7 linked regions of the Homo sapiens genome follow. The protein of the gene in region 5 purifies or fractionates together with the protein of the main gene of each other region. This does not show direct contact. Each region holds a gene or a part of one and is shown on either strand. Other genes may lie near its edges. The genes, in order: PPM1B, CDK5RAP2, UBR2, FKBP15, C1orf87, PPP2R2D and AKAP9.

What was found.
Region 1: the proteins of C1orf87 (region 5) and PPM1B purify together in Homo sapiens (affinity purification with mass spectrometry; 2 studies listed by BioGRID and IntAct, with this or other methods). This does not show direct contact.
Region 2: the proteins of C1orf87 (region 5) and CDK5RAP2 purify together in Homo sapiens (affinity purification with mass spectrometry; 2 studies listed by BioGRID and IntAct, with this or other methods). This does not show direct contact.
Region 3: the proteins of C1orf87 (region 5) and UBR2 purify together in Homo sapiens (affinity purification with mass spectrometry; one large-scale study listed by BioGRID and IntAct). This does not show direct contact.
Region 4: the proteins of C1orf87 (region 5) and FKBP15 purify together in Homo sapiens (affinity purification with mass spectrometry; one large-scale study listed by BioGRID and IntAct). This does not show direct contact.
Region 6: the proteins of C1orf87 (region 5) and PPP2R2D purify together in Homo sapiens (affinity purification with mass spectrometry; 2 studies listed by BioGRID and IntAct, with this or other methods). This does not show direct contact.
Region 7: the proteins of C1orf87 (region 5) and AKAP9 purify together in Homo sapiens (affinity purification with mass spectrometry; 2 studies listed by BioGRID and IntAct, with this or other methods). This does not show direct contact.

What each region holds. Positions count from the first base shown.
Region 1 is NC_000002.12:44,199,875-44,203,374, forward strand, and holds part of PPM1B (protein phosphatase 1B), read left to right. Parts: intron 1-1,311; 5' UTR 1,312-1,325; coding exon 1,326-2,171; intron 2,172-3,500.
Region 2 is NC_000009.12:120,573,668-120,577,167, forward strand, and holds part of CDK5RAP2 (CDK5 regulatory subunit-associated protein 2), read right to left. Parts: intron 1-3,500. UniProt on the Homo sapiens protein: Potential regulator of CDK5 activity via its interaction with CDK5R1. Negative regulator of centriole disengagement (licensing) which maintains centriole engagement and cohesion. Involved in regulation of mitotic spindle orientation.
Region 3 is NC_000006.12:42,672,029-42,675,528, forward strand, and holds part of UBR2 (E3 ubiquitin-protein ligase UBR2), read left to right. Parts: intron 1-1,762; coding exon 1,763-1,859; intron 1,860-2,097; coding exon 2,098-2,165; intron 2,166-3,500. UniProt on the Homo sapiens protein: E3 ubiquitin-protein ligase which is a component of the N-end rule pathway.
Region 4 is NC_000009.12:113,172,778-113,176,277, forward strand, and holds part of FKBP15 (FK506-binding protein 15), read right to left. Parts: intron 1,807-3,500; coding exon 1,651-1,806; intron 829-1,650; coding exon 676-828; intron 1-675. UniProt on the Homo sapiens protein: May be involved in the cytoskeletal organization of neuronal growth cones. Seems to be inactive as a PPIase. Involved in the transport of early endosomes at the level of transition between microfilament-based and microtubule-based movement.
Region 5 is NC_000001.11:60,070,971-60,074,974, forward strand, and holds the start of C1orf87 (uncharacterized protein C1orf87), read right to left. Parts: upstream 2,801-4,004; 5' UTR 2,720-2,800; intron 1,701-2,719; 5' UTR 1,674-1,700; coding exon 1,567-1,673; intron 1-1,566.
Region 6 is NC_000010.11:131,953,008-131,956,507, forward strand, and holds part of PPP2R2D (serine/threonine-protein phosphatase 2A 55 kDa regulatory subunit B delta isoform), read left to right. Parts: intron 1-2,676; coding exon 2,677-2,956; 3' UTR 2,957-3,500. UniProt on the Homo sapiens protein: Substrate-recognition subunit of protein phosphatase 2A (PP2A) that plays a key role in cell cycle by controlling mitosis entry and exit. Involved in chromosome clustering during late mitosis by mediating dephosphorylation of MKI67.
Region 7 is NC_000007.14:91,999,862-92,003,361, reverse strand, and holds part of AKAP9 (A-kinase anchor protein 9), read right to left. Parts: intron 2,515-3,500; coding exon 127-2,514; intron 1-126. UniProt on the Homo sapiens protein: Scaffolding protein that assembles several protein kinases and phosphatases on the centrosome and Golgi apparatus. Required to maintain the integrity of the Golgi apparatus. Required for microtubule nucleation at the cis-side of the Golgi apparatus.

The sequences.
Region 1 (3,500 bases), on a different chromosome or scaffold from region 5:
GGTTCATCAGATTTTTTTAAATGGCGATATGTAATTTTATTGTAAAGTTCAATAATGATCATACCTGGAAAAAATCTCACAAAGATACGTAGACCCAAATGGAGGTAAATTGATCTAGACCAGTGTCTCTCAAAACTTTAAATCACCAGCATGCTTTTTTGATGATTCCATCTAAGATCTATTGAAAAAAATCCTTAGGTGTGGGAATAGGGCTATGGAGTCTGCATTTTGAGCAGATATAACAGCAAACATTTTATGGTGTTTATTGTGTTTTAAGTGCTGTTTTAAGCACTTTACATTGACTCATTCTTCACAGCAGCCCTATGAGGTATAGGTACAGGTGACTAAGAAATTTGCCCAAGGTCACCTAGTTAGAGTGTAGGGTTAGCATTGTATGTAGAAAACATACCAGAGAATTCTTTTGCATACTTTTGGGAACCATTACTCTAAGTCTAATCTAAGTCATTTGAAATTGGGAAAGCTTTATTCTATAAAATAGTAAAGTTGGGTAGGCGGGGAGAGGGTGATGCATAGTAGTACTTTCCAATTCTAAGGATTTTAAGTCTTTGTCAGTCAACACTGGGTAGCTACTTCATGGATTTTAAGTTCAGCAAAGTGAAGTCCATTTTTTAGCACCATGTTAAAGGTATGTTTTTAACAGAATCAAAGTAATGATAAGGTTTTCAGTTTTATAGATATATAGTAAAAGTGATAAAACCAAATGTGTGTAGAATGGAGATTTTTATGTTTTAATTGAATTTTGGGGTTGTCTTTAGGTTCACTGGGAGGAGAAATCTTGATTTCAATACTTGCTTTTGAAAGTCTTCTAAAGTATATTAGTATACCTTCCTACCTTGATTTATTGAACAAGATGACTCACTGTTTTGAATATTCTCATTGTCCAGTCTTCTGTAAACTTACATGTCGAACCCTAGACTCACCTTGTAAATTAAATCAGAATGAAATTATTAATGAAGTTTTATTTCTTGTTTTTTCCTTTCTCCTAGAACAGTGGTCTCAACGTGGCTGCACATACAAGTCACCAGAGAGGCTTTTAAAAGATGATATCTGTGTCCCATCCCTAGGGATTCTGATTTAATTGGTCTGATTATTCTTACGCGCTAGGGCTGAGAAACCACTGTTCTGTAGGATGTAGGGGAGGAAATTTCTTGGGCTTTTGTTGTTGCTCCCGTAAATTAGGATAATACTAAAAAAAATACTTGAGGTAGGAGTTACTAGACTATAGAGGGAATATTGTACATACATTTTCTGTCAAATTTAAACATTTAACACCTGCATTTTTTATTTCAGATTTATTGCTAAACATGGGTGCATTTTTGGATAAACCCAAAACTGAAAAACATAATGCTCATGGTGCTGGGAATGGTTTACGTTATGGCCTGAGCAGCATGCAAGGATGGAGAGTGGAAATGGAAGATGCACACACAGCTGTTGTAGGTATTCCTCACGGCTTGGAAGACTGGTCATTTTTTGCAGTTTATGATGGTCATGCTGGATCCCGAGTGGCAAATTACTGCTCAACACATTTATTAGAACACATCACTACTAACGAAGACTTTAGGGCAGCTGGAAAATCAGGATCTGCTCTTGAGCTTTCAGTGGAAAATGTTAAGAATGGTATCAGAACTGGATTTTTGAAAATTGATGAATACATGCGTAACTTTTCAGACCTCAGAAACGGGATGGACAGGAGTGGTTCAACTGCAGTGGGAGTTATGATTTCACCTAAGCATATCTACTTTATCAACTGTGGTGATTCACGTGCTGTTCTGTATAGGAATGGACAAGTCTGCTTTTCTACCCAGGATCACAAACCTTGCAATCCAAGGGAAAAGGAGCGAATCCAAAATGCAGGAGGCAGCGTGATGATACAACGTGTTAATGGTTCATTAGCAGTATCTCGTGCTCTGGGGGACTATGATTACAAGTGTGTTGATGGCAAGGGCCCAACAGAACAACTTGTTTCTCCAGAGCCTGAGGTTTATGAAATTTTAAGAGCAGAAGAGGATGAATTTATCATCTTGGCTTGTGATGGGATCTGGGATGTTATGAGTAATGAGGAGCTCTGTGAATATGTTAAATCTAGGCTTGAGGTATCTGATGACCTGGAAAATGTGTGCAATTGGGTAGTGGACACTTGTTTACACAAGGTATGTAAACTTTTTTGTCATTAAAATAACATGTTAATTTTGAAAAGTTACGGTAGGTAAAGTTAAGCTAACTTAAAATTTTAAAACTTTTAATATTTTCACAGAAGCTGTATATTTTGAAGTACTTTACCAGAAATGAAACCATTGTTTTCTTTGCCATCCTTGTTTGTCCCAGCCTTCTAATTTGAAAATTAAGCTTGATAAATTTGAGGCATTTGTTGTCATTTAAGTACTTCATAGCTTGTTGCTGTAGCAAAAGCATTTACACAGAGTGACTTTTTCTTGACATTGGCAGTAACCATCTTATGCCTGATTATGAAGCAGCTTGATAAAATATGTATATAGTAGAATTCTGTACTAGATATTACTAAAAGATCAAGAGCCATGTGAAATATTGGAAGATGTACTAGATGCCTAGCCTGTATAAAATTTAGTCCTGAGCCTCCTAGCAGTGAAGACAAAAACTGAAATAAAAATATGGGTTGTATATTTCTCATTGTCTTCTAAAAGCAGCTCTTATCTGGCAATACAATCTAAAAAGGATTTACATGTGGCTCTCTAAGTAATACATGACTTGGATAGTATCTTTTGTAGAAGATAAAATTCTTTTCATATAGATGTTTTTATTATTTCTGATTAAAAACCAAAGGCTTCTATAAAACATAATCTTGTGAAAAATTCCTGTGGAACACTAAAGTTTATTTAGATTTGTAATTTTGTATGAATCATTGCTTGATACAGTAATAGAAAAAAAGTCCAGAGTAATAGATAATTGGCAATCCTTTGAATATCTTTAAAATACTCAGTTGTTTCAAGTGGGTTTTTGACAGCATCTATATATAATTCAATTAAAATTTGAGTTATCTGGCCAGTGTCTGGAGTGTGTAAGTATTTGACTGAAAAGATACCAAGGTAAAACTGACCTTTAGTTACATGAAATAAATAAAGGGTTTGACTTATTTATTCTGTCTAGATTAGAACCACTGTATCTCCCTACTCCAAAATGTACTGTGGAAGGTATGGGCATAACCAGAAAGTTTTTCAGAAAGGATCTCTGGGTCTCTGGAAATGCCCAGATTTTGGTTAAATACCGATTTCTTTTTAATAGAATGGAAAGAGGCAGTTTTAAAAACAGAAGATTTAAAGGCCGTTCTTGTCAGTGGACAGCCTTTTTCTGAAAGGATTTTAATGATGGTACCTCTAGCTCCTCTGATTTTTATTTTTAACACACTGTATCTTTTTACTTCTGGATGAGTTAAGTAAAGAAGTATTGATGGTTGTCAGTGATCAAATAGTAAGTGGGTCTAAAATTATGTATTTGTCTTTGAA
Region 2 (3,500 bases), on a different chromosome or scaffold from region 5:
CTCAAGTCCATTTTGGAAATAGGTGGGCTACAGATATATAACAAGACAAAGGAAATATACTGAAATATTAAAAATCATCATTAGTAGGGAAATGAGAGGTTTTCTTCCTTTTTAATGTTATATAATTCTCAATTTCCTCCAATAAACATCACTAAAAGGACAAAGTCAATTTTCTAAACTGAATTTTAAAAACTAAAATCAAGTTCAACCATCACCTTTTGCAGATGGTGGTCCAGAAGCCCAAGGTCACATACACCAGGTTATTGGCCAAGCTCAGCCTAAGGTCTGGTCCTGCATTCTCAATCTGGGGTTCTCTCCGGGTACCAGAGCCATTACATTAACTCCCACTGGCTAAAACTGCCCATGAATAACTCAAGCCAAGATCAATCACAGCTGAAAAGTACCTAGCAAACAAAGCCAAAGATTCTGGTCTTAGACAAGCTTCCTACAGGCAAACACTGAAGTTTGAAAAATGACATCTGACATCCCAACTCTTAGACAAAACCACTATGTAATGCAGAAATTTTTGCTTGGATCCTGCCAAATTTCCACTCGGGCTTTACCTACCCACTTTTAAAATGCTATGAATCTGTCATCTGCACCCTCCAGTCAGTTCCAACTACACCTCCAGCCACAAGCAGCTCCCTCTTTCCATTCTAATCATTCACTTGTAGCCTTATAATTAAGGCTGGGGCCTCAGGGATACTCACGAGAAATGACAATGTAAGCAAAACAAAAGGGCTCAGATATGATCTTATTCCACAGATGAGAAGACTGAAACCCAGAAATGGGTTAGGAACTTATTTACTCAAAATCACAAAAGTTAGTGGCAAAGCCAAGCCCAAAATCCAGGATCCCAGTGTCTTTTCCACTTGCTAGCCTGTGTGTGGACTGCCCAAAGCTCCTATATAAATGTGACACATGGTGGAGTACCAGTTTCCTCACGTGCAAAATAAAGCACAATCTAAGAAACCTGCCCTTGTATGGGGCACCCATGCTGCACAAGCACCACACTCAGCACAGGACAGGCAGCCTTCCCTTTCATCCTCACCACAGGATTAAAGTCCATTTTCTAAACTGAATGTTTGAAACTAAAATCAGGTTTAATCCTCACTATAGTCTTTCTGCGGCTGGTGGTACTTTTTAATGTTGCCTTTTTTTTTTTTTTTTTTAATGAGGAAACAAAGACCAAAAAGTTAATAGGCTGGAAACTCCAAGCCAGCCTGACTTTAAACCCCCTGCTGTGAACCTACACCACCCTGGTACCCCTGACGCCTTCCCGGAGGTTGGGGGTGGCAGGGGTGTGGTGGTGGTTAAGGGCCGAATGGACTGAGGCATAAAATTTCCATCACTCAGCACAGGGCACAGCCATCATAACGACTGTTTTGTTTTGTTTTGGTTTTTTGGAGACTCTCACTCTATCGCCCAGGCTGGAGTGCAGTGGCGTGATCTCAGCTCATTGCAACCTCCACCTTCCATATTCAAGCGATTCTCGTGCCTCAGCCTCCCAAGTAGCTAGGATTACAGGCATGCACCACCACGCCCGGCTAATTTTTTGTACTTTTAGTAGAGATGGAGATTCACCACGTTGGCCAGGCTGGTCTTGAACTCCTGAGCTCAGGTGACCTGACCGCCTCAGCCTCCCAAAGTGCTAGGATTACAGGCGTGAGCCACCGCGCCCAGCTGTAGCAACTGTTTGTGGATAATTTTTGAGTGACTGAATGGACCTTCACCTGAGCTCCACCACCTCATCCTCCTATCTTGCTCTATTGCTACCGAAAAGGACTGACCTCTTTCTATGCCTACATATGCCAGCAACAATTGTCCACTCAAACCATAAGACCCAAGGGGTCTTATGTCTCCTTGACAAATTGTTTCATGAGAGTCATGGATGAGACCAGATATCACATTCTGACAACGATTACACAAACAAACTCACTTTTGTCTTTTAACAACCCCTTTTTCATTCTATTTTATTCTTAATTAGAGAAAAATACATAAATTTAAAAAAATACAGATAAGCCTAAAGTTCTCCTTGGCTCCTCCTCGCTCCCATCTAGAACCCGCCTAGGAGGTAATCACTGTTTTCAAAAAGACCTATAACTTCCAGAACTTTTTATGTGTTTTTACATAGATAGTTTCAATTTTGCTGCTTAAAAACACATGCAATCAAACAGTATACATCATGCTACAACATCCTTCTTCTACTTAATATGCCCTCATGATGTTTTCATGACAGTACAAATAGATATGCCTCAAAGTTTTCAACTCCTACAAAGCTTTCTACAGCAGTGTTCTTCAAACCTTACTGACCATGAGCCACAGAAGAAATATTATTACCCTTCATCCTTGAAATGTTTTCTATTCTGTTCTATTTTTCTAAATCCTGGTTGCAACCTACTAAATTGAATTTCATGAGCTACCAACGGGCCACAGTCTGAAAGATACTTTTGAAAGGATGTGTATTTACCCAATCCCCTACTGATGATAATTCAATTTGTTTCCAAGTTTTTCTTTTACATGCAATGTCATATGAATGTCCTTATAAGGTCCCATATGCACAAGTATGAGGATTTCTCTAGAATAGATGACAAGAAGTGGAATTGCTGGGTCAAAATATATTCACGTTTTTTAAATGGACGATGGATTTGAATACACATTTCTCCAAAGAAAGTGAACAAATGGCTAAAAGGCACATGGAAAGATGCTCAACACATCAGTAGCCATTAACATGTAATCAATACCACAATGAGGGCCAGGCGGGGTGGCTCACTCCTGTAACCCAGCACTTTGGGAGGCCAAGGCGGGCAGATCACCTGAGGTCAAGAGTTCGACACCAGCCTGGCCAACATGGTGAAACCCCGTCTCTACTAAAAATATAAAAATTAGCCGAGCATGGTGGCACGTGCCTGTAGTCCCAGCTACTTGGGAGGCTGAGGCACCAGAACCGCTTGAACCCACGAGGCAGAGGTTGCGGTGAGCCGAAATTGCGCCACTGCACTCCAGCCTGGGCAAGGGAGTGAGACTCTGTCTCAACGACAAAAAAAAAAAGACCACAATGAGATACCTACCATGTCACACCCAAAGGATGGCTATAATCAAAAGGACAATAAAAATATCAGTGAAGGGCAGGCACAGTGGCTTGTGTCTGTAATCCCAGCTCTTAGCAAGGCAGAAGCAGGAGGATCACTTGAGCCCAGGAATTTAAGACCAGCATGGGTAACAGAGCAAGACTGTCTCTAAAAAAAATTAAAAACAAAAGCCTTAAAAAGGAAAGAAATTCTGACACATACTACAACACGCATGAACCTTGAGGACATAATGCTAAGTTAAATAAACCAGTCACAGAAGGACAAATAGTGTATGATTCTACTTATACGCGACACTTAGAGTAGTCAAAATCATAGAGACAGGCTGGGCGCAATGGCACATACCTATAATCCCAGCACTCTGGGAGGCCGAGGCAGGCACAACACTTGAGGCCAGGAGTTCAAGACCAG
Region 3 (3,500 bases), on a different chromosome or scaffold from region 5:
AAAATTGAAGTCTTTTTTTTTTGAGATGGAGTCTCACTCTGTTGCTCAGACTGGAGTGCAATGGCACAATCTCGGCCCACTGCAGCCTCTGCATCCTGGGTTCAAGCGACTCTCCTGTCTCAGCCTCCCGAGTAGCTGGGATTACAGGTGCATGCCACCGTGCCCAGCTAATTTTTGCGTTTTTAGTAGAGATGGGGTTTCACCATGTTGGCCAGGCTGGTCTCAAACTCCTGACCTCAGGTGATCTGCCCATCTCGGCCTCCCAAAATGCTGAGATTGCAGGCATGAGCCACCATTCCCGGCCTAGATACATTTTTTAGCCTGGGCATTCACATTCAGTTGGTCAGCAGAGTCTGACAAATTCTCACCATTCCTTCTTCTACTTGTTTGGTTCAGCCCCATATTATTTCTTGCCTAGATTATCATAGCAGTTTTTACCCAGAATCTCACTCTTCTCTAATACGTTATTAGAGGGGCTCCTCAAAAGCAATCCTGTTCATATTCTTCATACTTTTACAAACTTCTTAACCTATTTCTCCATTATCACCTCCTGCCAGTTCCCACCCCTGTGGTCCAGACTTGTAGAATCACTGCCAGTTCCTCAATGCTAGTTCCCATGCCTTTGCACATTCCATTTCCTCTGCCTAGAGTACCCTAAGCAGACTGCTACTCTTTCAGATGCTGTTCAAGCTTTCCCTTCCCTTAGAAAGCCCTCTGAACCATGTACTGTGAGTTAGAGACCTCTCATCTGTGATGCCTGCCTCCTTCCCCACTTTCTTCCTTTCCCACCCCAGGACTTTAAGCTCTTTGAGAGCAGGAGGGGGAGAATGGGTTTTATTTGAAGATCTTCAGAACCAAGACCTAGTGTATATAGTAGGACCTCAATATTTATTGAACCAAACATTACAGAAAATTTGGAAAATGAAAAAACAAGCAGGAAGAAAAAAGTCATCAACTTATCACATACCCATCTTTTTCCATTAGCATATTTATGCTTGATTACAATTGGTACTCACATGTAGCTTTGTTTCTGCTGTATTCTTTAAATCAAGAGTTTTCTTATTACTGCTACTTAGTCCTCATAACAATTTTTAATAGCTGCAGGCACCCTCATTTGTACCACCATCTTCTTAGACAGTTTCCCCAATATTTGGAGTATCTCTTTAGGATACTCTACATTTTACGGAAGAGTATCCACATTTTAGAGGATCTCTTTAGGATAAACATAAGAGATATGTGTTTTAGGGTATCTGTTTAGGATAAACATAGAGAAATACTGCATCCGCATCTTGGCTTGTTTATTTGTTTTTTGAGATAGAGTCTCGCTCTGTTTTCCAGGCTGGAGTGCAGTGGTGTGATCTCAGCTCACTGCAACCTCTGCCTCCAGGGTTCAAGTGATTCTCCTTCCTCAGCCTCTCGAGTAGCTGGGATTACAGGTGTGAGCCACCACACCCGGCCTGCACTGGCATCTTGGGAGTGTCCCTTGCTTTCTGTCAGATGCGTATATTCTATATTCTTTTCTTTTCCAGAGAAAACCAGCAACATGGTGGCAAAGAGATAGATTTCATTTATTCAGCACACACTTAGACATTTCCCATTCCATTTATCCTGTGTTAGAGGCATGTCATTGAGATGTCATAGATCTAGTTCCATACCATCTAGAGCAGTTTCATTGTGCATCCAGCTGTGCTCTGAACTAGCATTCCTGAAAGAGAACTGCTTTGCATTTTTGTTTTTTGTTAATTGCGTTGGTTTATTTTAGGATGACTGTCTTAGGTCATTGACGAGATTTGCCGCAGCACACTGGACAGTGGCATCAGTTTCAGTGGTGCAAGGACATTTTTGTAAACTTTTTGCATGTGAGTATTAATACATTTATAACATGTTGTAATTTTTCATCCTCTGAAATTTTGTTTTTAATGGTACAGCTTCTCTCAGTAATGAATTAAATATTTAGTAGTACTGGTTTTCTTATATATAAGCTCTAGCTTATAAATTCTCATGTGTCTTGCAAGAAGATAAATTTAAAGCAGATTATATGCATTTTAACATGTTGGCATATGAAATATGCTAATGTATTTCTCTTTAAATCTGTAGCACTGGTGCCTAATGACAGCCATGAGGAACTTCCATGCATATTAGATATTGACATGTTTCATTTATTGGTGGGTATTGTGCAGTTTGTTTGGACTTCTACGTCATACTATGTAACTTTACCTTAGGTTTGGTGAGCAGTGTAGTGGCAGACAGGAAGGAGTTATGTGATTTCCTTACCCCTTCTGAGTATAATTCTTTTATGAGAAACCTCAAAAAGAAAATATTTAGGAACCTAGTTGAGAGACTTGACCTGGTTATCGAGACGTCCTCTGACTCTTATTTTGCTTTATGGCTGAGGTTAGTATTTTAACCTCTCTGTGCTTTTAACCTGTAAAGAGATAAAAACACCAGCAACGGGTCAGGTGTGGTGACTCATGCCTGTAATCCCAGCACTTTGCGAGGCTCACCCCAGATCACTTGAGGTCAGGAGTTTGAGAGCAGCCTTGCCAACATGGTGAAACCCTATCTCTACTAAAAATACAAAAAATTAGCTGGGCGTGGTGGCACATGCCTGTAATCTCAGCTACTCAGGAAAGTGAGACAGGAGAATCACTTGAACCCAGGAGGCGGAGGTTGCAGTGACCAAGATTGCATGACTGCACTCCAGCCTGGATGACAGAGCAAGACCCCATCCAAAAAAAAAAAAACAGCAACAGAAGCACTGCTGCTGGCCCATACAGTGCTTTTGTACATTTTCGAAAATCTGGCAGATACAGCCCTGTGGTCACACTACTTAGCAGCAGAGAGCCCCTTATAATTCAGGGAAAGGTATGTCCTCTGAGCCAGGACATCCTAGTGCTAAGACACACAGCTGTCCAAATAGTGGGTAGCCAAATTTCAGCCCTACCTCAACTGGGTTCCCTTGCACAGGGTACAGAGTGTACTGCCACACCCAGCAGCCCCGAGTGCTGTGCCTTTATTCTCTGGACCTCAGATTCTGCCCCTTTAAGTTGGTTAGTACCTACTTTATATGACTATGTCAGAACTCAGTGAGTTAATCCATGTAACACACTTAGAGCAATATATTCCTAATAAATGCGGCTATTACTGTTCTCATTGCTGCAACTAAAACCACCACCACTTATACTGCCATGCAGACAGCAGGAGGCCAACAGAGCTAGCATTTGTGTACCTGCCAGCTTTTACATACGTTCACACTTACATCTCTACAATTTACATGTAACATATTGTCTTTAGTTTACCAATAGGGAAACTGAGGCCTGATCAGAGATATTAATTTGTGTAAAACAGCTCATAAGAGGAGGAGGTAGGATTCATATCTAGATATTTATGGGTCCAAAACCCATGTTTTTTCAACTGCCTACAGTCCTGGAGAGAGTTCAGATACTGTTTTTGTTAACAATAAGCTATGTATAGAGGACCCACTGGATTAATGAAATCAT
Region 4 (3,500 bases), on a different chromosome or scaffold from region 5:
TTGCCTCCAAGATCTCTGAGCCAAAAGTTTTCAACTGGACACTTTAAGGAAAGAAACTGACCTCGAATATGGACTTTCACACCATGACCCTAAGCCATGTCCCATCTCTCTTTTTCAGGCCTGATGATCCCACCACACCCCAGCCTCCATCCTATCTCAGTGCCTTTGCCCAGGATGTTCTGCCTCCTTTGCTGCCTTACCAAAGCTATTTGTCCTTCTTGGCTCTGCTCAAATGTCACCACCTTTGGGAAACCTTCCCAGCTCTCCTGGGTACTTCCTCTTCTGGGCCCCATAGCACTTAACACCTATCTTTGTTTCTTTGTCTCCCTTTCTTGACTGTGAGATACATGAGGGAAGGGTTCCTTGTATGCACTTCCTTTAACACACTGGATGGAATACAACTGACTCTCAATAAATATTTGCTTAATAAATGAAGGATCCAATAATAATGGGAAACATGTTCCGGAACACTAGTGCTGTTTTCTCTTTTTCCAGGTCACTGACCTATCACCCCACATAAGTATGTGAAAGATAACTGACAAGCTAAACAAGTGTGGTTTTGTCTTCTAGATATTAATAACTTTCAGGCTTAGAAGGATCGACAGGACTCAAACAGCCTGCTTGCCTCAAATTAACTGGGCTGCCTAAACTGTCTGACTCAAGAAAAATATGTACCTTTTCCTGAAGTTGTACCAGCTTCTGCTGGTAGGCATCTCTCTGTGCGCACACCTCCTGGTACTGCTGCAGGTGCTCATCCTTGGCGGAGGCCAACAAATGTTCACATTTTGCTTCCCACTGGGTCTGTAGCTCAGCCTGTACTAAAGACAGCTGCCAAGAGAAAGTAATGACCATATCATCCTTGGGGGTGGGGGAGTGAGATTCCATTGCACCTAGGGAAACCCATCTTTCAAAAAGCAAAAGAATAAGCTAACAGCCCAGATTTAACTGGGAAACTGTTTAAAAGACTCATTACTTTTAAAATAAATGCACTTCTTAAGATGTCATTGGTTGTCAGGACTCCAAAAGGTACTCCAAGCAGACAAAAGTGTGCCTATCTAGATAGGTCCCTGGAGGGCAGGGCCATGTGATCACTGCTTTTCAGGGTCTGAACCCTAAACTTTATAGGTTCAGAAACTTTTTTTCACCAAAATTCCCAGAGGTGGTCAAATTGAGGGCACCAATGCACTCTAATTAAACAAATGTATGCATATAAATTTTAAGCTTATAATGAGAAAGGTTGCTGTTGCACAGACTAGAGATCCAGCTGTGTCCTGCCACTATCCCTGGTTCCCTTCCTGATGACCTAAATCAATCCCTTCTTTTCAAGGATGATAATGTGCCTGAAGGATGGTGTCCAATGGTTGATGGTTTTGGCCTTACCATGTTTGGAATTTTTTTTGTAAGGAAACTATTTTTCATTTTTACTTATGTAATTAAATATTAACTAAGCTTTAAAAAAAGAAAGAAGATTCTCCATTTGATTCCTGGCTCTCCTGCACATATCTGGATTACTTTTTCTACCTTTCTCCAAAGTGAGAGTATCAGCTATGAGAAATGTCATCCTAAAGGGTAAGGAAGAAACCAGAAGCTTTTCTCTCTGAGTCCTTCACACCTTCCCTCTATTTTCAAAGTGCTTCAGTTTCCCATTACCTGCTCTGCAGCTGCTTGGTCTGTGGACACTCGAGTCTTTTTCAAGAGCTGTCGAAGTTTGTCCAATTCCTCCTGGTATGACTTGCGAATTTCATCTATCTCCTCCTCGGCCTGAGAACGCTCTTGAGCTGACTTCTTTTTCCTTTCTGAGAGGTTCTTAGGAACAAGAGAACCATCATCAGCTCTAGCTTGTTAACAGAGAATAAAGAGGGATGATGGCGGTGGCAGTTAATTACCTTGTGGAATCCTTACTCCATTTCTGAAAACTCCATTTTTTAGTTGAATTTTCCCCTAAATATTTAACATTCTTGGCTACTGGGTGAGGAAAATGGTGACAGGAGAAGGAAAACAAGAAGAGCTGTATCTACCCCTCTATTAAGAGCTAGGGAAATTGGGAGGCCGAGGCGGGCGGATCACGAGGTCAGGAGATCGAGACCATCCCGGCTAAAACGGTGAAACCCCGTCTCTACTAAAAAATACAAAAAATTAGCCGGGCGTAGTGGCGGGCGCCTGTAGTCCCAGCTACTTGGGAGGCTGAGGCAGGAGAATGGCATGAACCCGGGAGGCGGAGCTTGCAGTGAGCCGAGATCCCGCCACTGCACTCCATCCTGGGCGACAGAGCGAGACTCCGCCTCAGAAAAAAAAAAAAAAAAAAAAAAAAAAAAAAAAAAAAAGAGCTAGGGAACATCCTAACTTTAATAAAGGTACAGGAAATCAGACATTCTCATACCCTGATAGTAAGAAAACGAATGGATATACTCTCTTTGGATAGTAATCCTGTGAAAAGCCTTTAAAAACATACGTATCCAGAAATTCCACAAATTGTAATTAAGGATTCAATAAGTCATAGTCATAAAGAGTGTGTTACAAGGATGGTCACTGTAGTAGTATCTATAGTAATGACAAACTGAAAACAGCCAAGAGGTTAGAAGGAATTGGTTAAAAATAAATAAATAAAATGGAAAAAATCCTGGAAAAAAATGCAATTGCAGACCAAGATTTACCCTCTTAAAAGGCACTGGGCCAAAACAGCTTTACCTAATGAGATTTACTGAAGCCTCAGGAGCAGTTTATTATTTTCATATTTAAACGATTCCAGAACAGACAAAAAGATAGAAATGTTCTCACTTTGTTCACTTAGTATTTCCTGATATTAAAATTTTAACCAACAAAAGATACTATAAATAAAGTTAAAAGACAGCAAGCTAGAAAAATATTTACAACATCTATGACTGACAAAGGATTGATACCCTTAAAAGGGTTTACAAATCAAACTAATAATAGGAAAAAGGATAAAGGACACTAAAGAGAGAATGTACATAAGAAATACAAATAGGTATTAAATATATGAAAGCTTTACTACTAATAAAAATACACATTAAAACAAGATAACATATTTCACCTGTCAGACTAATGAAGATTAGAAAAAGTGATATATGTAGAGTGGGGAAGAATGTGACAAATGGGCTCACTCACATACTGCTGAAAGTGTAAGCACTATTCTTTGAGGATAACCTGGTAATATTTATAAAAATTCAAATATGTAGCCTTCCCTTTGATCCCATGATTCTTACTCATGCAATCCATCACGTAGGAATGCTCAAACAAATTTGCAAAAACAGTTATATAATATGAGAATGTCCATAGAAGCAGTGCTTAAAATAATGAAAAAATAAAAACATAAATATCCATCGATAGGCAAATCATTAAACAAATTATGGTACAGCCTCATAGTAGGCTACTATGCAGCAGTTAACTACGAGTGAGAAAGATCTCCTTCTTATGTAGTACAAGTCCATGACATTTTCCTAAAAAACATTAAACGTGATACCACTACTGTAAAAAAAGTT
Region 5 (4,004 bases):
AATAATATAGTTTTCCAGGTAGGAGATCTGAGCCAGGTGTCCAAACTAATTCTATTTACTTTTCTTGACAGTGACAGGGATTTGACATATCTCAAAATAATCGCTTACCATATCACAGTGTCTTAGTTTCCTCATCTACAAAACAGACATAAACTGTGTCCTAGGCATAGAATATAAAAGGGACATCAAACATTTCAGAGAAAGAGGTTCGATTTTTTGTTACATTTTTTATATCTATAGAAAGACTTCTATAATAATAGCAGGATTATTTACTAAGCATGTTATTTATAATAGACACTGGAAAGGTGCTTTGCATACTTTTTCTCATTTAATCCTCACAATAACCCTATTACTAGATAGGTGTTGTTTTATCCCCACTTCATATATGTAGAATCTAAGGCCAAAGATGTTAATTCATTTTCCCAATGTCAAAAAGGCAAGAAAGAATCAGACCTAAGATTCAATTTCACACCTCTCAGCACTGTAGGGATCCCAAATGTATGAATCACGTGCTGCAAACCTCAGTTCCTGTGCAGTGGCAGACATTACTAACTGATTATAGCAGTCACTTTGGAATCCCTCTAGACCTTACAATACTGATAGTAGGGAAGTAGAACTAATGTGCCTTTCTAAAGCCTTATTAAAGCCTGTACTTCATAACAGCAGTCTTGGTGACCTACATTCAGAGATTTTGATTCAGCAGACCTTGAGCTGGTTCCTGAATCTGTATTTTTGAGGTCTCTCCCAGTGATTCTGATGACAGCTAGGTTTAGCAAAAATTTCTTCTTGCACCTATGTTCAACAATACCATATCTTTGTATATTTGTTCAGTCTATGAGTTTCTGAAATAGAAGATAGAGCTAAGGAAATAATCTTAGGAAGGAAAAGTAATTTTTGACTAGCTATTACTTATGGAACGCCTACTATATGAAAGACAGATCTAGTACCTTCCCTCCTTTTTTGAGCCACTGAAACTCTGTAAGAAAGAGCTAGTCATACTGTTCTGTGCTGAAACATCTGGTGAATATTAGAAATACAGGAGTGTCATCTCTTAAATGTGACTCTGATGGGTTTGGAATAGAAGAAAGAGATCTTAGCCATGATCTGAGAAGCCCAAGCTTAGAGGAGTATCAAATACAAACAGGAGTAAGTGAAAACCTTACAATTTATGATTCTGTATTAATCCTACTCCTGTAATTCACAACAAATTGACTATTAAACCTCCCCCACTCTCCCCAAAATTAGTACATGTGGTAGATTACAAGCCCGATGAGAAAAGGCAGCAGTGCTCCATTAATATTTATAAATGTCGCAATGCTCATATTTCCCATCTATTTGGAAAATCAGCCCAAGTAATTAAGGAGTATGGGGAATTATAAAGATGAAAAATATCAGGAAAACAGTGCACATGGAAGTTATCAACACGATTTTACCTCTACTGTTGCATCTTAATGACTTCGTTTTCCATGGATGGCATTTTTTAAGTTTAAATTTCTGGGTGAAAACAAAACAATAAAACTTCATTATCATCCAAGCAACATAGATATTTTTCAAATATGGACTTACATCTTTGGCTTCTCCACGAGGTATTGAAAGTGTTTACTTCCAATGATTTTCACCATGATCTCAGGCATTGCATCTGATCCACGGGGAGTCTTCCAGGCTGAAGACATGATTCCTTTCAAAATCCCTTCAGATCCCTAGGGGTGAAAATAAGTAAATTGTTCCTCTTGATTTTCCATTAGGGAACTGCATCATCCTTGCCAATAACAACAAGCAATAATAATAGCAGGACAAAGTGTTTCACCTATATTACCTCACTTAACACTCCTAACAAAGGCATGAGAAAGATATTTTTAACTACTATTATCATTTTTGTTTTACTGTTGAGGAAACAAGCAAAATGTAGCTATATGACTTACTCACATCACATCACATCACCAGTAATTAGCCGACTTGGGAATCTCACCTAAGAGGTCTGTACAGCAGATCTACTGAATCATTAGGTGACTCTACCTTCCTGTACTACAAGACATAGGATGGAATTCCAGTGAGGTCAGAGCAGAAACAAGGGCATTAGTGGGACATATGAAGAATCCATATTCAGTTCTGATGTTTAGTTTCCCCATTTATGAGATCAGGGTAATTCTAGGTCTGTTCTCAGGGACTTGAGGGTGAATCCAAGGAGATAATGCATCTGAAGGGAGACTGTACACAAGACAGACAGACTTTTGTTGTTATCACTGATCTCTTTCTACAACAATACAATGAATCTGAAATTGAACTCCTGCACAAGGTGTTTAAACAGAGTGATGCCAAGGGAAAATCAGAAGTTCAGTAAATCTGGCCACAGCTGAACACTCCCTTTTAGAACCACCCAGAGGCTGAAAGGCCTTTAGAAATCATTCTACTCCAAAGGCTCCTTCACAGATTGGAAAACTAAGGCCCAGAGAGGGTGTGTTATTTGACAAGGGTCACAGAGGAATGAAGGACGGGACTGTTTCCAGTACTTGGGTCTGATGTCTAGGCCAGGGTTCTTCCCAAAAGTCCAATACTAAAGACCTGTGCTAGGGCAGCCCCTCATCCCGGGGACCTGCAGCCTCTTTGCACCTGTCTGGAATCTTCCAGACCCGGAACTCGTGATCCTCAAATCCCCTCCCTGCCCAGCAGCTGCGTGTCGGCCCTGATTGCCCGGAGAGAACAGAGTCGGGGGGCTTACCGCTAGGGCAGCGTCCCCACCCTGGCAGCTCAGAGGTGCGCGGTCCGTGCTTCTCCCCAGGAAGCTGACACTCTCAGACCCGGGGACGGGACGGGGCGTGGGGACCGAGCCCAGGAATCCGGCCAATCACAGGGCCCGCATCGCGGGCGGCGCCTGTTCCGCCCTGGTCGCTAAGGACGCTGAAGGCTGTTTCTGGGCGGGGACCAGGTTTTTCTCCACTGCCTAGGCAATGGACCCAGGCTCTGGCTGCCAACGGGTGAAGAGCCTAGGTGTTTTTGATCTGTGCCTTCTCTGTTCCTCAGAGATATGCGGGCGTCCTTCTAGAAGCCCATCTCGCTCACCTGTGTGGTCACCCTTGTCCCGCCCTTCCTCCGAAGGCTTCATTTCCCTTTGTGAGTTTGCACATAGTTGAGATTCCAACACAGTAGGTTCAAATCCAGACGTCTCCACTGTATGGCTTGAGTAAATCCCTTCTTTTCCCTGAGATTGTTTCCTCATCTGTGAAACGGGGCAAAATAATAACACTGTCCTAACTGCGATTTGGTGACTAAATTAAATAAGAATATCGGCCGGGCTCAGTGGTTCACCCCTGTAATCCCAGCACTTTGTTAGGCCGAGGTGGGCAGATCACGAGGTCAGGAGATTGAGACCATCCTGGCTAACATGGTGAAACCCCGTCTCTACTAAAAATACAAAAAATTAGCCGGTCGTGGTGGTGCGCGCCTGTAATCCCAGCTACTCAGGAGGCTGAGGCAGGAGAATTGCTTGAACTTGGGAGGTGGACCTTGCAGTGAGCCAGGATGGTACTACTGCACTCCAGCCTGGGCAACAGAGCGAGACTCCATATCAAACAAACAAAGAAACAAAAAAACCAGAATATTATAGATTGATAATAATAACGTTGAGTACTGTCTCTATGCCAGATCCCTATGACAAGCTGGATAACTCTCACCTCACAAGTTAATAGTTATAAACAAAATAGTTTTACTTTATTTTAAAGAGAAAAGAAACAAGTTGGGGTATTGATAAACTACTCCAAATCCTGCAAAAGCAAGTACAGAGCTAAGATTAGAATATAGATCTGCATATCCTACATTTCCAGACAGTTGTTATTATGCTAAAAGAAACTTCAGCTGATGCAGGCAAAGACACTTTAGATTGATTCCCAAACGGTATTGTTATTTGCATCAACATAGGCAGCAGCAGCTCCAGCATCTGTTCCCCTGTCTCCTAACCTCTAGCTGTACTGTGCTTTACAGGTGAATATATCACCCACTGGCACATG
Region 6 (3,500 bases), on a different chromosome or scaffold from region 5:
TTCACTGTCTTAGTGACTTGCGGGTGTGCAGGGGGTTTCACTGTCTTAGCAGTGACTTGCGGGTGTGTGTGGGAGGTTCACTGTCTTAGCAGTGACTTGCGGGGGTTCCCTGTCTTAGCAGTGACTTGCAGGTTTGCGGGGGTTCACTGTCTTAGTGACTTGCGGGTGTGCGGGGGGTTTCACTGTCTTAGCAGTGACTTGCGGTTGTGTGTGGGGGGGTTCACTGTCTTAGCAGTGACTTGCGGGGGGGTCCCTGTCTTAGCAGTGACTTGCAGGTATGCGGGGGTTCACTGTCTTAGTGACTTGCAGGTGTGCGGGGGTTCACTGTCTTAGTGACTTCCAGTTGTGCGGGGGGTTCACTTAGCAGTGACTTGCAGGTGTGTGGGGGGTTCACTGTCTTAGCAGTGACTTGCGGGGGGTCCCTGTCTTAGCAGTGACTTGCAGGTGTGCGGGGGTTCACTGTCTTAGTGACTTGTGGGTGTGCGGGGGGTTCACTTAGTGACTTGCAGGTGTGCAGGGGGTTTCACTGTCTTAGCAGTGACTTGTGGTTGTGTGTGTGGGGGTCACTGTCTTAGCAGTGACTTGCGGGTATGCGGGGGTTCATTGTCTTAGTGACTTGCGGGTGTGCAGGGGTTCACTGTCTTAGTGACTTCCAAGTGTGCGGGGGGTTCACTGTCTTAGCAGTGACTTGCGGGTGTGTGGGGGGGTCACTGTCTTAGTGACTTGCTGGTGTGCGGGGGTTCACTGTCTTAGTGACTTGCGAGTGTGCGGGGGGTTCACTGTCTTAGCAGTGACTTGCGGGTACATGGATAGTCACTGTATTTTTTATTCCTCTTGATATATTTCAAATATTGCAAAATACCCTTAGATTACATATCCCCAAGAACATCTAAAAGCGTTCCCAGTAACATTTGCTTAGTCCATTCACTCTCAAAAACACGCCAGTCTTCCTACCTGGAAACTTCTGTTGAGGGATGCGATGAAGGGGAGTGAGGCGTTTCAGTGCTGCCTCAGCCCAATCCTGATTCTCCGTGTGGCAGCGCCTTCTTGTGTTCTAGGTCGCCCCACAGAACCAGTTATGTGCTTACGCCTGTGTCTCTGTCTGTGCTGTTCCCTTCCTGGGCCAGCACCAGGCTGCTGGGCAGCGCCCTTGTTTGCAGTGTGGAAACACCCACTCTGGGGCTGGCACTATCTGTCGAGAATTTAAAAGTGATCATAAATCTGTATGAAAGCTGATGTGCTTTTCGTTATTACCATGCACCAGCAATTCCAGTCAGTGTCGGCCATACATCATCTGTCGTCTGTGTTCTGAATAATGGTTACTGTTGAGTTTTAATAACATAAATGTAAGCTTCAGATTCACACATTCTTATTACTTACCCTTTCGTAAACATTGTGTTTTATGTGGAAACTAATTTGGGGAACCCCCAGTCAATGGCCCTCACGTGCCAACTTGGCTGCATACCCCTGTTCCAAGACCACGTGCACAGCTTGGCATTGCTGGAGGGCGCTGGGCACACCTTGTGTCTCCCGCCTCTGTGGCGCTGTGGGCTCCTGGATGGAAGCAGGAGATGGGAAATAAACATGGATCGCTGAATGCAGTTTCTCTTCTCTGAGTTCGTCTTTTTTTTTTTTTTTTCCCCTGCTTTGAAGTTTTAGACAAGGTCAGTCAGACACTAGGTATTTGCCAGCAGCCAGGGTCAGTGCTGGGCCATGGAAGGGAAGCGGCCCGCTTCTTTCTCATGGCACCTTGAAGACGCGCCAGCGTGAAAGGCCTCTCACCGCGCATGACCATGGGGGCAGGACGTGAGGGCGCGGGTTAGTGTCAAAATAGGAAGAGGAGGCGAGCTTCAAGGACGGCTGGAGAAACCAGAAGGGCATTGTTTGAACACATCTTTCATCAGAAACTGGACTCATGAAGCCATGGGTCAAATCATGGCAGCGTTTGCATCATTCAGCTATTTTTCTGTCATTTTTGTAGAAAATGTAAGATTGCAGAGGTTTTTACCAGTATTATGAAGTTATATCATGAGGATGTGTGCGGTAGTAGAATTTTTCGACAGCAGAGACATTTGAAAGCCATTACAGTTGATCTTGAAGAAACAAAAGCATGGACGGTATTGTATTGTCTGGAATGTGTGTGAAATGCAGTTGTTCTAAAATTCTGCCACACTTTGCCCAGTGGATTTTTACTATTTCTATCCGTTGCCTCATTTGAAAGAAACTTTTTGAAATTAATAGAAAAGCAGTTTAACTCCAAAGAAACATTGACAGATATGACTAGTAACTGTTGAACATGATAAGGATTATGTTCAGGTCATTATGGATCATTGACAAATTGCAGAACATAAGGCTTAAAAATAAACTGTGCTGTTATTCATGAGTGAGATAAATAGGTGGGGTTGTTTCAAAAAATACACTAATGTTAAAAGTGTGACTCCATTATTTTGTTTCTCCTGTGACATGGATTCTTACTGACATGATTATAGATAAAGCTCGGTACACATTTTCACTGCATTTCTCTTCTGCCCATTGTGATTGATCATTCCTGATTTCTGAAAGTAACTGGGTTGTGGGGGAGGGTGGCGTGCGCTGTGCACCCCAGGGGTGGGGTCTGAGTCCTTGCTGCCGCTCCCCCCACTGAGGAGTGCTGCTGTCTGCTCTTGTTTTGAACAGCGCCATCATGACCGGGTCCTATAACAACTTCTTCAGGATGTTTGATAGAGACACGCGGAGGGATGTGACCCTGGAGGCCTCGAGAGAGAGCAGCAAACCGCGCGCCAGCCTCAAACCCCGGAAGGTGTGTACGGGGGGTAAGCGGAGGAAAGACGAGATCAGTGTGGACAGTCTGGACTTCAACAAGAAGATCCTGCACACAGCCTGGCACCCCGTGGACAATGTCATTGCCGTGGCTGCCACCAATAACTTGTACATATTCCAGGACAAAATCAACTAGAGACGCGAACGTGAGGACCAAGTCTTGTCTTGCATAGTTAAGCCGGACATTTTTCTGTCAGAGAAAAGGCATCATTGTCCGCTCCATTAAGAACAGTGACGCACCTGCTACTTCCCTTCACAGACACAGGAGAAAGCCGCCTCCGCTGGAGGCCCGGTGTGGTTCCGCCTCGGCGAGGCGCGAGACAGGCGCTGCTGCTCACGTGGAGACGCTCTCGAAGCAGAGTTGACGGACACTGCTCCCAAAAGGTCATTACTCAGAATAAATGTATTTATTTCAGTCCGAGCCTTCCTTTCCAATTTATAGACCAAAAAATTAACATCCAAGAGAAAAGTTATTGTCAGATACCGCTCTTTCTCCAACTTTCCCTCTTTCTCTGCCATCACACTTGGGCCTTCACTGCAGCGTGGTGTGGCCACCGTCCGTGTCCTCTCGGCCTTCCTCCGAGTCCAGGTGGACTCTGTGGATGTGTGGATGTGGCCCGAGCAGGCTCAGGCGGCCCCACTCACCCACAGCATCCGCCGCCACCCCTTCGGGTGTGAGC
Region 7 (3,500 bases), on a different chromosome or scaffold from region 5:
TACATCAGAGGGTTCATTTTCATTCTCTTGTAAGGATATGAACTTATGTTCTATGAAGGTGAAACCTTAGTGTGAAATGTACATTTTTTTCATTGTGCTTTACCATATATGAAGAAGTAAACATACCTGTTCTGATTTAAGTACATTGAGTTCTTTCTGAAGTTTATCATTTTCACTTGGTTGAGTTGCTCTAAGTGATGATTCCTTTGTTACAGATGGTAAGTGATCCAAAATCAACTGTTCTTGCTTACTTTCTTCTCCAACAGTCATATTTTCAAAAGAAACTTTATCTTCCACCATTATTTTTGATTCTTCACCAAAACTTTTATTTACTTTAGAAACTGATCCTTCAGCACCCCTGCTTGTCATGGTCACAACTCCATCTAATAAAGAGCTTACTTGAGTATCACATGACTGTACATTTTCTGCCCTGTTGTGGTTAATAATGATTTCTAGCTCTCTACATCTCAATGAAACTTGTTCTTTCTCTTGCTTTAAAGATTTAACTTCTTCATTTAGAAAACTAATCTCACCATGTTTCTGTTTCAATTGTTCAGAAAGATCAGACAGTCTCTGTGACAGCTCTAATTTCTCTCGCTTGGTTACCTCAAGTTTTTCCATGAGTTCTGTTGTATCCTTTTCAACAACCTCACCCATTTCCAATGTTTCTGCTACAAAAGTTTTGTCTTCATCAAAGACAGAACTTTTCATTTTCACTGTAGTTGGATTTATTCTTTGCAAATGAAGCTCTTCATTAAGTGCTTTAAGTTTACTTTTATACTCTAATTCCTGTTTATTTTTACTGTCTTCTAAATCATCTTTTACTTTGAGAAGGCAAGCATACTCCTCTTGTAACTCTTGATAGTTAACTTCAAAGTTTTTTTCAGCAAATGAAAAAGTGTTCCTTTGCTTTTCAATCTCTTCATTTAGCTGAATACATTGTTGTTTGAGGTCCTCATTTTCCTCTATAAGTATTTCTATTTCTTTTTCCCACACAGAGTCTTTGGATTTGGACTTAATGGAGTCTAAGAAAATCAATCTTTCTTCTTGGCTAACAGGAGTATGTATTTTCAACATGTCTTCAAGGGTTTTCTTTTCATCTTTAAGAATGCTATTCTCTGCTTCAAGTTGTGCAAATTTTTCTTGAAGATCATTCTCTTTTTCCTTCATCTGTTTTTCTAACAATTCTGTTTTAAGTTGTAATTCTTGAACTTCTTGTTCAAGTGTACCCTTTTCTTTTTCTTCTTGTCTGAGTATTTCAATTTCTTTTTGAAGTTCATTGATTTGAAGAGTCATTTCTTCTGACTTTGAATTTACAAGAGACTGCTGTAAATCTTTTAGCTTTGAAATTTCCAAAATTAATTGATTCTGCTTAGTTATCAAATTGTCCTTTTCAAACTGCATGGTTTCTATCTTTTGACTCATTTCATTCTGTAAACCATCTATCTGCTGTTTATAGTGAATGCCTAAATTATCTTTAAGTTTTTCAATATTTATTCGATGTTCAATTTCTAAATCTTCCTTCAGTTTGGAAAGCTCTTCTTCGTGACTAAATAGAAGCTGTGTTCTCAGCCTCTCTAATTCAGCTTCTTGTGATTCAGCCATTCTGTCTAACACAGCATTCTTTTCTTTTTCTAACATTTCAAGTTTTATCTTGTAATTTGTAACTTCTGCTTCATGTTTTAATTCTAGTTCCTTTCTGGATTCAGATGCAGAAACAATCTCAGCTTTCAAATCTTCCACTGTACTAAGGGACTTATGTGCTTCATTAAGTTTACTTTCTTGTTCAGCTATTGTCTGTCTAGCTCTCTGAATCTGTTCCCTTGAAAAGCTCAATTCTTCAACAAGGTCTTCAAGCTGTCTCTGTAGAGCACACTTTTCTTCTAAAATTAGTCCTAGTTCTTCCTTGAGTTTTTCCTTTTGAGAGTTAGTATCTTGCAATTTTATATTCAGTTCATTTATTGCCACATTCATTAACTTTATCTGATCTTCATTAACTGTAATATTTGAATATGACCTTAAAGCATTCTCCATTTCTCCCTTATGCCGTGTTTTCATTTCCTCCATCTGTGCCATGTGTTGTCTTATTAATTCTTGTTTCATTTGCACTATCTGCTGCCCATACATCTCATCCAGCTCTGCCCGGAGTTGTTCTAACTTTCTTTGTGTTTCTTGTTCCATTCGTTGTACTATATCAGTTTCGAACTGGCTGTCTTTATGATTTCTCTTCTGAAGTTCTTCGACTGTCCCCATTAACTGTTTTATTTCTTCAGAAGACTGTCTTTCTTTTTGCTTAGAATTAGTCAGCTCTAATTTCATGTTTTTTATTTCTTGGTTCTTTTGCACAATCTGTTCTTGTAATTCTCCTAGTAATTTATCAGCAGTTGTTAATTTATCCTTTAGCTCAAGAGTTTTCTTTTCTTCTTCTATTATTTTTGTGTTTAATTCTTCAATGATTGTCTCCTTTTCCTGTATTTCTTCTTTATTTGAGTTTTCTACTTTTTTATCTTGTTCCTTTAGGAAAAAAAATGAAAATGTAAGAATGGCATTTTTAGCTTCTGGCAAATTATACTGCTTCATCTCATTACCAAAAGACTGACAGAAGTTTCTCTTTTAAAAAATTCTACAAAAAGTAAATGTTGGTCCTGCCCCTCAATTTTTTCCACAATAATGACACTTAGAACTCGTGTAACCAACACTACTTGTGAGCAAACACTACAGTAGTTTTGGCCTTCTTAGAAGAAATTTCTCTTAACATTTCTGTGATTAAAATTTTTAGTTTAAAAACCCAGTCTGATTTTAGATGTCTCCAAACTGTTACATTTTCATTTTTCTTATTAACTGATCAACATTCTAAATATTTAGTATTCTCTATAGCTAAAGTACTGCATATACTCTAGACACATTCAGAAAGATAAAAATAAATAAAAGTTCCTCACATGTATTCTGGTGACTTCAATGTGTGTCATGGGCAAGGGCTATGGAAAAAGAAAAACAACAAAAACAGACTCCTAACGGTCTGTCTTAACTTCAGTCCTGGGCTCTTAAGTCAGTCAGAAATTTAGAGATATGCAATGCTTAAAAGGCTGAACCTCAAGTGACATCTAAGACAACTATACCATTTATGGCATAACAACTTGGTCCTAGGACTTTTGGTTTAAACAGAATTTTCAAAGCAAAGCAGATACTCTCCCCCAGTTCTTATTTGGGATTCTATTTTGGAATGGAGATAGGGCTACGCCCAGACACAGGCCAAGGCATATCTGTTATGGTGATTACTTCAGCATGACAAAGTCAAGCAGAGGCCCTAGGTCAAAGTTTTGCTTCAGTAACTTACTTGCCTCTGTAAGTAATAGAGGGCTATAGTCTCAAAAACAAATAAATACATGAAATCTACAGAATGGATCAGGACATAAGTAGGTAAGTAAAATCATTTTAAAGAGACAGGAGTCCCAGGCAAACAGGACTTAAAGGTGCCTTGAATGAATGAATGAATGAAT